Linked DNA regions of Homo sapiens: region 2 is linked to region 1. The links come from fine-mapping of genetic effects on gene expression. A gene starts in region 1. The other region holds a variant in brackets. All regions are shown on one strand. Distances are between the middles of the regions.

Region 1 (5,411 bases):
GAATTCACCCAGAGGTGCCAGTTCTGATCTCATCTGCCTATTTCTGCCTGAAGGGAGAGGCAGGGGATGGAAGCGGAGTTCCCAGCTCTGGGTCAAAGCTGGGAGGCCAGTGAGAGCCATCCTGGGGGAAATGAGGCCAGAGAGGTGGCCGGGGTTCCCCCAAGATCCCCCTGAGCTCTCTTCTGCGCAAACCCTCGGGAAACTCTAGCATCCCAGAGTTTGTCGCTGGGAATACACAACCGGGTCACCTGCAAGGGGCGGGGCCAGCGCCTCTTTCAAGGGTTCCCTCCCAGCCCCTCCCTCCCCAGGGGGGCCGCTCTCCTCCCCTAGTGGGGTGGATGGAAGGACGCCAGGGGGTCCAAGGCATAGCAATGGGAGGGACGGGGGATAAGGGCGGCGGCTCCACTCGTCCACCTCCTGCTATGGCTCTGAGGACAAAGGCGCTACCAGAGGATAGATAAGGTCCCGAAACCGGGGAGTCCGGAACCCGGAGCCAGGAGCGCCCGCCCCGCCCCTCCCTGGCTCGGCGAGAGTGAAACCAGGAAAACTTCCCCGGCGACGTCTCCGTCGCCCCCGACCATTCATAGGGAAAGGGAGGAGTCTCCCAGCCTCTGGGACTCGGGGCCTCCCGTTCTATCTGGGACTCAGGCGACTGAGACTCCAGCCTCAAGACAGAGCCTTCGACCCTTGATCATATCTGGAGCCCAAGAGACGGGGCCCGCTGCTCGCACTTCTGTTTGGATCTCAGAAGACGTTCCTCTGCCTACAATTAAGTCTGAAGCCCACGAGATCGAGTCTCCTGTCCCCCGGTTCTGCCGGGAACCCTGAAAACGAAGCCCCCTGCCCACAATTAAATCCAGAAGCTACAAGTTTGATCCTCTCTCGCCCCCAGTTTTACCTAGATCCCAGTTAGACTTAGCGCCTAGCCTCCATTCTACCAGGGACCCTGAAGACGGAGCCCCCGGCCCCTAATTTTTCTGGAGTCCACGGAGTCAGAACCCCCAACTCCCTGAGGTTCGGGGTTGGAGCTCCGAGCTCAGGCCCTTCCCCCTAAGTCGCCAGAACTCTTATCCTTAGCCCTCCAAGGGACCCGAATCAGGTCCGCTTGTCCTCAGTTCTCTCCGGGCCTCAGACGCCCAAGCCGGGAAGAAGGAAAAATAGGGGAGGGAGGTGGTCTCGCCTCTTCCTCGAGACCTTACTGCGGTAGGTGGGGGGAACATTCCCCACATTCCTGAGAGGGGTAGAGGAGACAGAGACCCAGATCCGGGTGAACTACTCGGCGCGGGGTGGGGAGGGGGCACCAGGCCTTCCTGGGATTTAACCCTTTCGGCGCGGGAATCCGAGAAATGGGGAGGGGGACAGACAAGCAGGCGTAGGATGGGCAATTGGATTAAGAAGGATGGGGGTGGTGGTGAGAGAGATGCAGAAAGGAGGGGTCAGAGTCTCCTCGAGAGAATCGGACGTGTAGGGGGTCGGAGTCTGTGGGGCCAGCCAGGAAGGGGGCACGCGAGAGGGGGCTCGGGGAGCCGGGGGTGGGCGGGGAAGGTGCTCGGCTTCCCCAGCTCGGAAGGTAAGGTTGGAGGGGGTCCGCGCGAGGGCAGGGGGCCGTCCGCTCGTCTCACCGGTTTCCAGGAGCAGCAGCAGCAGCAGCGGCCACAGCAGCGGCGTCGGCGGCGATCTCGACGGCAGGAGGGCAGCGGCCCGGGCCATGGAGGGCCCGGGAGGGGACTGGGCCCGGCCGGAGGCCCGCGGGCCACTCTGTGGGGGCCGATCGGCTGGGCGGTTTAGTAGGTGCCTGTGGGGCTCCGGCTCCGGCTCCGGGCCGGTTCCCGCTGCGCTCTAGCCTCCCTGTTCTGCTCTCCCGGCCCAGCTCTCCCCGCCCGGCTCGGCACCCCCGGCCTCTCGCTCAGCTCCGGCGGTTCGAACCCGCTGACGTCACAGGATCCACCCGCTGCTCCCCCGAGTCAAGCCGACCCTGGCTCCGGCCCCGCCCCCTCCTGGCGTTCTGACCCCGCCCCCCGGATTCCACCCCTGTTCCTCCCCGGGATTCCATTCTCGCTCCTCCCCAGGATTCTAAGGTCGCCCCTGCCAAAGAATTCTGTCTCCTTCGCTCCCGGCGTTAAACCACGCCCCCTAAGGTCTAGCCACGCCCCCTCTGCTCCCGAGTAGTTCCCACGCCCCGCCCCCTGCCTACCGGCCGCCTCGCCAAGGTCTTGCCACGCCCCTTTCGGCCCTTCCGGCCGACTCCGCCCCCACCAGCCCCGCCTCCACCAGCCCCGCCCCTCGCCCTAGCCGGAGTTCTCTCGGTCTCTTAGCTCAGTCCGTCCTGGCCTCTGTCCCACCCACAGTTCGAATCCTGCCCTTTCCTGCCTGCCCGGGTCCTCTCATCACAGTTGCCTGAGGCACGTGGGGCTTTACGGTTCTGCCCCCAGCACGTCCCGGTTGTGCGACCTCCCCGCAGGTCGAGCCCATCGCCCTGAGCCTGTTTCTCGTACCCTCGTGCGTTTCTAATCTCTGCCCCGAACTCTAGGTGTCGCTGCACTCGTTTCTTTCTGGATTTCTCTGTCTCTCTTACGTGTCTTTGTGTCTCTCTCACTCTCTTTGGGTCTTCCTCTCTGTCCCTGTATTTCTGCCTCTCTGGGTCTTTCCGTCCTCATGCTTCGGTGTCGCTCTGTTTCTGGTCTTCCTTTGTCAGTCACTGTTTCTTTATTTCAATAAAAGAGACGGGGCGGGGGGGCGGCGGGGTCTCACTATGTTGCTGAGGCTGGCCTCAAGCGATCCTCCCGGCTCGGCCTCCCAAGATGCTGGGATTACAGGCGTGAGCCACCAAGCCCGGCCTGTCTGTCACTGTTTCTGGGTCACTTGGTCCCCATGTCTCTTTCCATCCTTTGACTCTGTCTCTGTGTCTCTCTGTCTCTATCTGTGTGCCTCTCTGTCTCTGTCTCTATTTCTGTGTATCTCTGTCTCTATCGGCCTGTCTCTGTGCCTCTCTGTCTCTGTGTGCCTCTCTGTCTCTGTGTTTCTCTGTCTCTATCTCTGTGCCTCTCTATCTCTGTGCTTCTCTGTCTCTGTCTCTCCGTGTGTCTCTCTCTGTCTCTATCTGTGTCTCTCTGTCCCTGTCTCTTTCTCTGTGTCTCCCTCTCGGCGTCTCTTGTCTCTGCGTGCGAGTCTCTCTCGCTGTCTCTCTGTCCCTGCTCTGTTCTCTGCTTCCTTCCCTCCCTACCTCCCTGCGCGCCCTGGTCCTCCCCTCCCAACACCTGCTCCGCGCCGCCTTCTCACCGCAGCCACCCGCCAGGGGGCAGCAGAGACCGGCCCCCGCGCTGCGCTGGCCCGGCCGGGCTGGGTGGGGCTGGGCTCCAGTCCGGCCTCCGGACCTGGTCACTCCCCGCGTCCTTGTCCCACTTCCCCTATCTCCCCAGCCTCCTCGCGTCTTTGTGTCTCTCGCTCAGACTCGGGCCCTTTGTCTCTCCCAGCGGCTCGCCCTCCTCCCTACCCCCACCTACCTCTTCGCATTCTTTGGGCTGCCCAGGGGGAGCTGGTGAGGCCGCGCCGGGGGGCGGGATGAGGGCGCGAAGCGGGAGGCCGGGGGAGGGGGTGCCACGGAGCGCCAGTCTGGGCCCAAGTTCGTCCAGGGCCAGGAGGCGCGGAGCTGCTCAGCTGGGGGCAGGTGCTTGGGGGCTTCTTGCCCTAGCAAGAGGACCACCTAGGCTCGCCCTCCCTTCCACCTGCCACACACCTGGGCTTTCCTCCCCAGAAGGACTAGGTTTCAAGTAGCAGAGGCTGTTATCCCTCCGCATTCGAGTCTTAGTTATGATCCTTTTTTTTTTTTTTTCTTTGAGACGGAGTCTCGCTCTGTCGCCCAGGCTGGAGGGCAGTGGCGCGATCTCGGCTCACTGCAACCTCTGCCTCCTGGGTTCAAGCGATTCTCCTGAGTCAGCCTCCTGAGTAGCTGGGATTACAGGCGCGCGCCACCACGCCCGGCTAATTTTTGTATTTTTAGTAGAGACGGGGTTTCACCATGTTGGTCAGGCTGGTCTCAAACTCCTGACCTCCTGATCCACCCGCTTCAGCCTCCCAAAATGCTGGGATTGCAGGTGTGAGCCACCGCGCCCGGCACTTACGATACTGTTAATACATGTAGTCAGCACTTACCGTGTGCCAGGCACTGATCTAAGTGCACTGCGAATATTATCTCATGTAAGCCATGCAGCGCCATGGGCGATAGGGAAACTGAAGCAGAGAGATGAAGTGACTCACTGAGTTACAAAATGGCAGAGCCAGGGCGGGGCGCCCTGGCTGACGCCTGTAATCCCAGCACTTTGGGAGGCTGAGGCGGGTGGATCACTTGAGTTCAGGAGTTCGAGACCAGCCTGGCCGACATGGTGAAACCCTGTCTCTACTTGGGAGGCTGAGGCAGGAGAATCGCTTGAACCCGGGAGTTGGAGGTTGCAGTGAGCCGAGATCGCACCACTGCACTCCAGCCTGGGCAACAGAGTGAGACTCAGTCTGAAAAACATAAAATAAAATAGAAATTAAAAATAAATAAAAATAAACAAAATGGCAGAGCCAGAGCTGACTCTTCTAAGCACCTTATTTCTCTTAGTTAGTTCCTCACAGGGATCCCATGAAGGGGACACCATGGTGATCCCCATTTCACTGAAAAGTAAACTGAGGCACAGGGTGGTTGTTTGCCCCAAGCCACCCAGCAAAGACACATAGCAGGCCGGGTGCTTCTTTTGGGCCCGGATGGTCTGTGCTCTTTTTGTTTTTGAGACGGAGTCTGGCTCTGTTGCCAAGGCTGGAGTGCAGTGGCGCAATCAATCTCGGCTCGCTGCAACCTCCGCCCCCCAGGTTTGAGTGATTCTCCTGCCTCAGCCTCCTGAGTAGCTGGGATTACAGGCACGCACCACCACGCCCGGCTAATTTTTGTATTTTTAGTAGTGACGGGCTTTCACCATGTTGGTCAGGCTGGTCTCGAACTCCTGACCTTGTGATCTGCCTGCATTAGCCTCCCAAAGTGCTGGGATTACAGGGGTGAGCTACTGCACCCGGCCAGTCTGTGCTTTTAACCTCCATGCCATGTGAGCTCCAGATAGCTTGTGTCTCAGGCTTGGCACAAACTGGGTGTGAGGATGGCTGGACAAATAGGCGCACACATAATAAATGCATAGCAGCTACAGCTACTCGGGAGGCCGAGGTGGGAGGATCACCTGAGCCCAGGGAGGTTGAGGCTGCAGTGAGCTGTGATTGAGCCACTGCACTCCAGCCTGGGAGACAGAGAGATTTTGTCTCTAAAATAAATAAATACACAAATAGGCCTTGCGCAGTGGCTCATGTCTGCAATCCCAGCACTTTGGGAGGCCAAGGCTGGCAGATCACTTGAATTTAGGGGTTCAAGACACGCCTGGCAA
Region 2 (5,000 bases), 35 kb before region 1:
TAGATGGGGGTAGTCTTCCTATGTTACCCAGACTGGGCTCAAATTCCTGGGCTCAAACGATCGATCTCCCCACCTCAGCCTCCAAAAGTGCTGGGATGGCAGGTGTAAGCCACTGTGCCTGGCCCCCAGCTAATTTTTAAATTCAATGCCATACTTTATAGCAGAGAGAAACCCATACCTCCCTACTCCATTTAGACCCCAGTTCCTTTAGGTCTGTCTGTTTCACACAGCCATTATGGAGAATTTTCTCCCACCCTCACCCCTACCCCATACTCCTCAGTTCTTCGACCCCTCTCCCATCCCCGTCTCAGGGCCCATCACTTACTCTTCGTCCTCCTCTGCCCCCTGCAGCGTCTGCTCCTTCCGCTGCTGCCGGCAGATAAGGATGCCCGTGGCAGCCACAGCAGTAGCAATGATGGCGGCGATGATGCCCCCGATGATGCCGCCTGTGGCCCCTGCGCCTGCTGTGTTGGGGGTCTCTGCAAGGAGAGGGACAGCGTGAGGGGGTCTCCAGGAGGAAGCCACAGCTCCTTATTCCAAGCGACCATCCCACCCCACATCATCGCCTGCCTGTCTATGTCCTCTCCCATGGGCAGGGGACATTCTTTCATTCAACTCAAACTGCTGAGCATGAGGAAGGAGCGAGGATGTGTGCCCCGCATGGGAGATGAGTGGAGAACAAAACATACAAAGTGTCTACCTTCATGGAACTTTGATTCTGGTTGGGCAGGGAGAACAACAGTAAGCAAACCAGTACAATAGCTCACATGCCAGATGGGAGTAAGTCACGGGGGATACAAAAATATACAGTGCGGAAGTGATAGGAGGTGCAAAGTGGGGTCCCCGAAGGTAGTGGGAGGGCCTCTACCTTACTGTAAGGTGACAACTGAGCAAGGGCCTGAAAGAGACACCGGGGATGAGTCATGAGAGTGTCTGGGGGTATCGCAGGCAGCGCAAACAGCCAGCGGCCCTGCAGGAGGCTTGTGGGGCTCTATGGTTTTTTTTGAGACGGTCTCGCTTTGTCACCCAGGCTAGAGTGCAGTGGCATGATCACCACCAACTGTAGCCCCAATCTCCTGGGCTCAAGCGATCCTCCCACCTCACCCTCCGGAGTGGCTGGAACTACAGGCATGTGCCGCCAGGCCCAGCTTTTTTTTTTTTTTTTTGAATTTTTTTGTAGAGATGGGGTTTTGCCATGTTGCCCAGGCTGGTCTTGAACTCCTGGGCTCAAGTGATCCTCCCGCCTCGGCCTCCCAACGTTCTGGGATTATGCCGTGCTCGGCCTGCCTTGTATTGTTTTTAAAGAACAGCAAGTAGACTGTGTAGCTGGGGCAGAATGAGGCGGGGCAGAGTGGGAAGATGAGAGGAGAGGAGACAGGACCAGGGGCGGCTAGAAGACAGAGAATGCGGGGACAGAATTCTGGGATCCAGAATCACCTCTGGGGACTAGAATCTCCTTCCACTTATCAGGAAGGGGGTTAGGGCTTGGGGCAGTGACTGACGCCTGTAATCCCAGCGCTTTGGGAGGGCGAGGCGGGCGGATTGTTCAAGACCAGCCAGGGCAACGAGCACAAGACCTCATCTCTAGAAAAAATTTTAAAAATTAGCCGGGGGCTAGCCGGGCGCGTTGGCTCACGCCTGTAATCCCAGCACTTTGGGAGGCCGAGGCAGGTGGATTACCTGAGGTTGGGAGTTTGAGACCAGCCTGACCAACATGGAGAAACCCTGTCTCTACTAAAAATACAAAATGTTAGCTGGGCATGCTAGCGCGCGCCTGTAATCCCAGCTACTCAGGAGGCTGAGGCAGGAGAATTGCTTGAACCTGGGAAGCGGAGGTTGCCGTGAGCCAAGATCGCGCCATTGCACTCCAGCCTGGATAAGAGTGAAACTCCGTCTTAAAAAAAAAAAAAAAAAATTAGCCAGGGGCCAGGCACAGTGACTCACACCTGTCATCCCAGCACTTTTGGAGGCTGAAGTGGGAGGATCGATCGCTTGAGCCCAGGAGTTTGAGCCCAATCTGGGTAATATAGGGAGACCACCCCACTTCTTAAAAAAAAAAAGGCTGGGTGCGTTACTCAAGAGGCTGAGACAGGAGAATTGCTTGAACTTGGGAGGT[G/A]GAGGGTGCAGTGAGCCGAGATCGTACCACTGCACTCCAGCCTGGGTAACAGAGCTAGACACCGTCTCAAAAAAAAAAAAAAAAAAAAAAAAAAAAAAGGCAAGACAGGAAAAGGGGTCGAGAAGCGAGAAGCCTGTTTGCTCCTGGGCCTCTCCTTCCTTGCTAGCACCTCCCGTTTCCATTTCTCAAGTCTTTCCTAATGGAAGAGTTTTTGGAGTGGTTACCCGTTTACTTGCCAATTTCCATACTAGACTGTGTGCCTGAGGTTCGGCACACAGTAGGTGTTTGCTGGGTGTGTAAGGAGGACTCAGCATGGCACTGAAGGATCCACTGTGTGCCAGGCGGACCCAATTCCCCGCCCCTGCCCTCCGGTTGTCCGGGTGGGGTGGGTGGGTGAGTACAGACAACAAACAACCAGAGGAAGTAACAAGTATGGAAGGGCCCGTGGGGGTCACGCATGCATCGGCCTCACTCTCCAGATGAGGAGGAAGCTTCCAGAGGACGCTGGACTGTTGGATCTCCACTGCTCCCGTTCCACAGCCTGGCATCCTCTGGAGGGCTTCAGAGGGTGGGGGAGTGAGAGAGAGAGACTGCCCCTCGGTCCACACACACACCTTCATCCTAAACATACTGCTGCTATTCTTGTGGTCATTATGGCCGTGCACACCGGAGGACGGCACTGGGTCTGTGCAGGCCACAGCTGCAGCCCCAGCACTGCCTGGCACAGGGCTTGGTGGGGTCTGTGGAGGTCAATGAGGCTGCATGAGGGCATCACGGGCATGTCCTTACTGGGTCCCACGACAGCCTTGTGAGGCCGATGGAAACACCTGCCCCGTGTTACAGAGGAGGCATGGAGGCTTGGGAGAGCAGAGGTGACGCGGGTAAAAACCTGTCCCTTACTGAGCCTGGGAGTTCAAGGACCAAGGGCCGCCCCTCCCCCCGTCTTTGCTTTTCCAGTTGAGAGGAGCTGGAGGGAGCTGCCGCCACTCCCAGGGAGCCACTGAAAAGTCCCCTGGGGTGATCCCTGGGGGCAAGGATGGAGAAGGAGGGGAGCCACAGTCGGGGTGGCCAGAGGTGGGACTTCCCCAGCACCCCCCGCCTGCCCCATGCCCTCAGGGCCCCTAAGAATGGGAGTGGGGAGCAGCCCTCCCCTCCCGAGACCCCCAGCAACCTGGGGGAGTTGAGGTCTGAGGCTCCACTGGATCACAGCCCTCTGGCCTCATTCTCTCAGGACGCAGGGAACCTGGCTGAGCCCCTGCTGTCCCCACCCCCACCTCCACCCGAGGGCCCAGGAGTCCAGAGAACTCCTGCCTCTGATGGGTCTGGCCACACCATCCAGAAAGGCAGCCTCTGTCCTGGGACCCAGGAGTCCAAATGTCCAGGCCTCTGAGTCCCCAATCCAGTGACCTGAATCCTAGTTGCACGAGCCTTGCGGTTCTCGGCCATCCAATGCGTCTTTCAAGGATCCAAGTGGTCCGAGCCCCACAGCCTTCCCCAGTCTAACCCCTGCCAGGCTCTCGTTCCCCGGGGGCGTGGATCAGCTCTTCCCAGCCCTGGGACCTAGGAGTCCCTGTCCCACCCTCTCTTTCCCCAACATGCAAGGAGGGGGTCTGATGTATTACAAGACACCCCTGATGTTTTCCTCCAAGGCATTTATTAACTCCTGAGTGTCACGGGGCCAGGGGAAGGCTGGAGCCAAAACCAAGTCTCTGGGGGCGGGGGTCCTCTCTGGATCCCCACTACTCAGCTCCCCGGGCTCCCCATGCAGCCCTAGAGACGGGAGAAGTCCAGTGTGCTGTTCCACCTCCCTCCAAGTCCCAAGAAAGTGGGAGGCAGTGTTCCACTCCAGTGTCGTCCAGACGAACAAGTCCAACCAGTCTGGAACCCTAGGCCGGCGTGGTCAGGTCGGGGGCGGGAGGGCCGGGCCTGGCTCTGTCTCTGTCTGTGTCCAGGTCACACATAAACTGCCCGCCGTGAGATGAGGGAGCCGTCCAGCTGGGACTCCATGTCATCCTCGAGTGCTGGGGGTGGAGGCAACATGAGGCCTTTCTCTGCCTTCTCTTCCTCCTCCTCCTCCTCCTCATCCTTGCCATCTGGTTCCATGGGACCAGGGACTACTGGTGTCCAGAAGACGGGGTCCCCATTTCCCAACACCTGAGCTTTCGGATCGTAGAATCCCCCGTCGCCACTGGCTCCTCCTCCTGCTCCTCCAGGGCTCTTCCTCCTCCTCCTCACCCTCAGCAGGATGAAGGCCAAGGACCCCCCAGCCAGAAGCAGCAGCACCAGCAGTGTCCCCCCCACGGCCCCCCACACCAGCGGGCCCACATCTCGGGGCGAGGCCCTGGGGGTTTCTGAGGAGAGAGAGAAGGAGGGGTGAGAGAGAGAGAAAGGGAGACACAAGATCACGAGGATCGCTCTGGGGAGTGAGGGGGTGGGGGAGATGCAGGATAGGCGGGGATGGAGGGAGCGGGAGTGACCAGAATGAGGGGGTGACTCTGGGCAGAAGAATGGAGGAGGAGGAGGAGGGGGGTGGGGAAGCAGAAGCCCCTCCGCCCTTCGCTACAGCCTGAGCACCACTTTGTACAAGGAGGGGGATGCCAACCGGTGGTCCCCAGGTGTTAGTGTTTTGCAAAATTTAAATTGCTAGCCAACCTTTCAAAAATCAGGCGATTTCACTTAAAAATCCAGGTTTCTCTTAGGGGGACAAATCAGATCTAGCAACACCAAACTCCCATGTCTGGCGATCGCCGTAGCCGAGTGGAAGCTGGCTATTTGGATGCAATAGATCTGGCCGCCCGGTCACTGGCCAGGACCCTGGTGCCATCTGACTTCGCAGCCCTCCCTGAATGTGCTGTGGGGTCCTCACAAAGCTATGAGCTTGGGG

Direction of the effects. Positions count from the first base shown, and alleles are read on the strand shown. Sizes are in standard deviations (SD) of each study's normalised expression.
For the expression in monocytes of the gene that starts at base 1,939 in region 1, A is the high allele of the variant in region 2 and G is the other (large effect, 1.8 SD a copy in Fairfax 2014).

Evidence for each region. PIP is the estimated chance that this variant, and not a neighbour inherited with it, causes the effect. A credible set is the group of variants that fine-mapping cannot tell apart.
Region 2: its variant is the best candidate, but not a certain one, in a credible set for the expression of NECTIN2 in monocytes (Fairfax 2014, PIP 0.66).

Annotation. Positions count from the first base shown.
Region 1 is chr19:44,842,825-44,848,235 of GRCh38, reverse strand. NECTIN2 (nectin cell adhesion molecule 2) reads right to left here and starts at 1,939. Exons shown (of 9, transcript NM_001042724.2): 1 at 1,623-1,939. The coding sequence starts at 1,710. RefSeq lists an enhancer at 1-229 and silencers at 1,869-1,968, 2,099-2,178, 2,259-2,308, 3,176-3,575.
Region 2 is chr19:44,877,690-44,882,689 of GRCh38, reverse strand. It overlaps NECTIN2 (nectin cell adhesion molecule 2), which reads right to left. Exons shown (of 9, transcript NM_001042724.2): 6 at 326-479. Among named protein-coding and RNA genes, the nearest start is that of TOMM40, 11 kb to the left of the region's middle. RefSeq lists enhancers at 1,255-2,104, 2,105-2,954, 2,955-3,804. The variant G/A (reference allele first, on the strand shown) is at 2,117.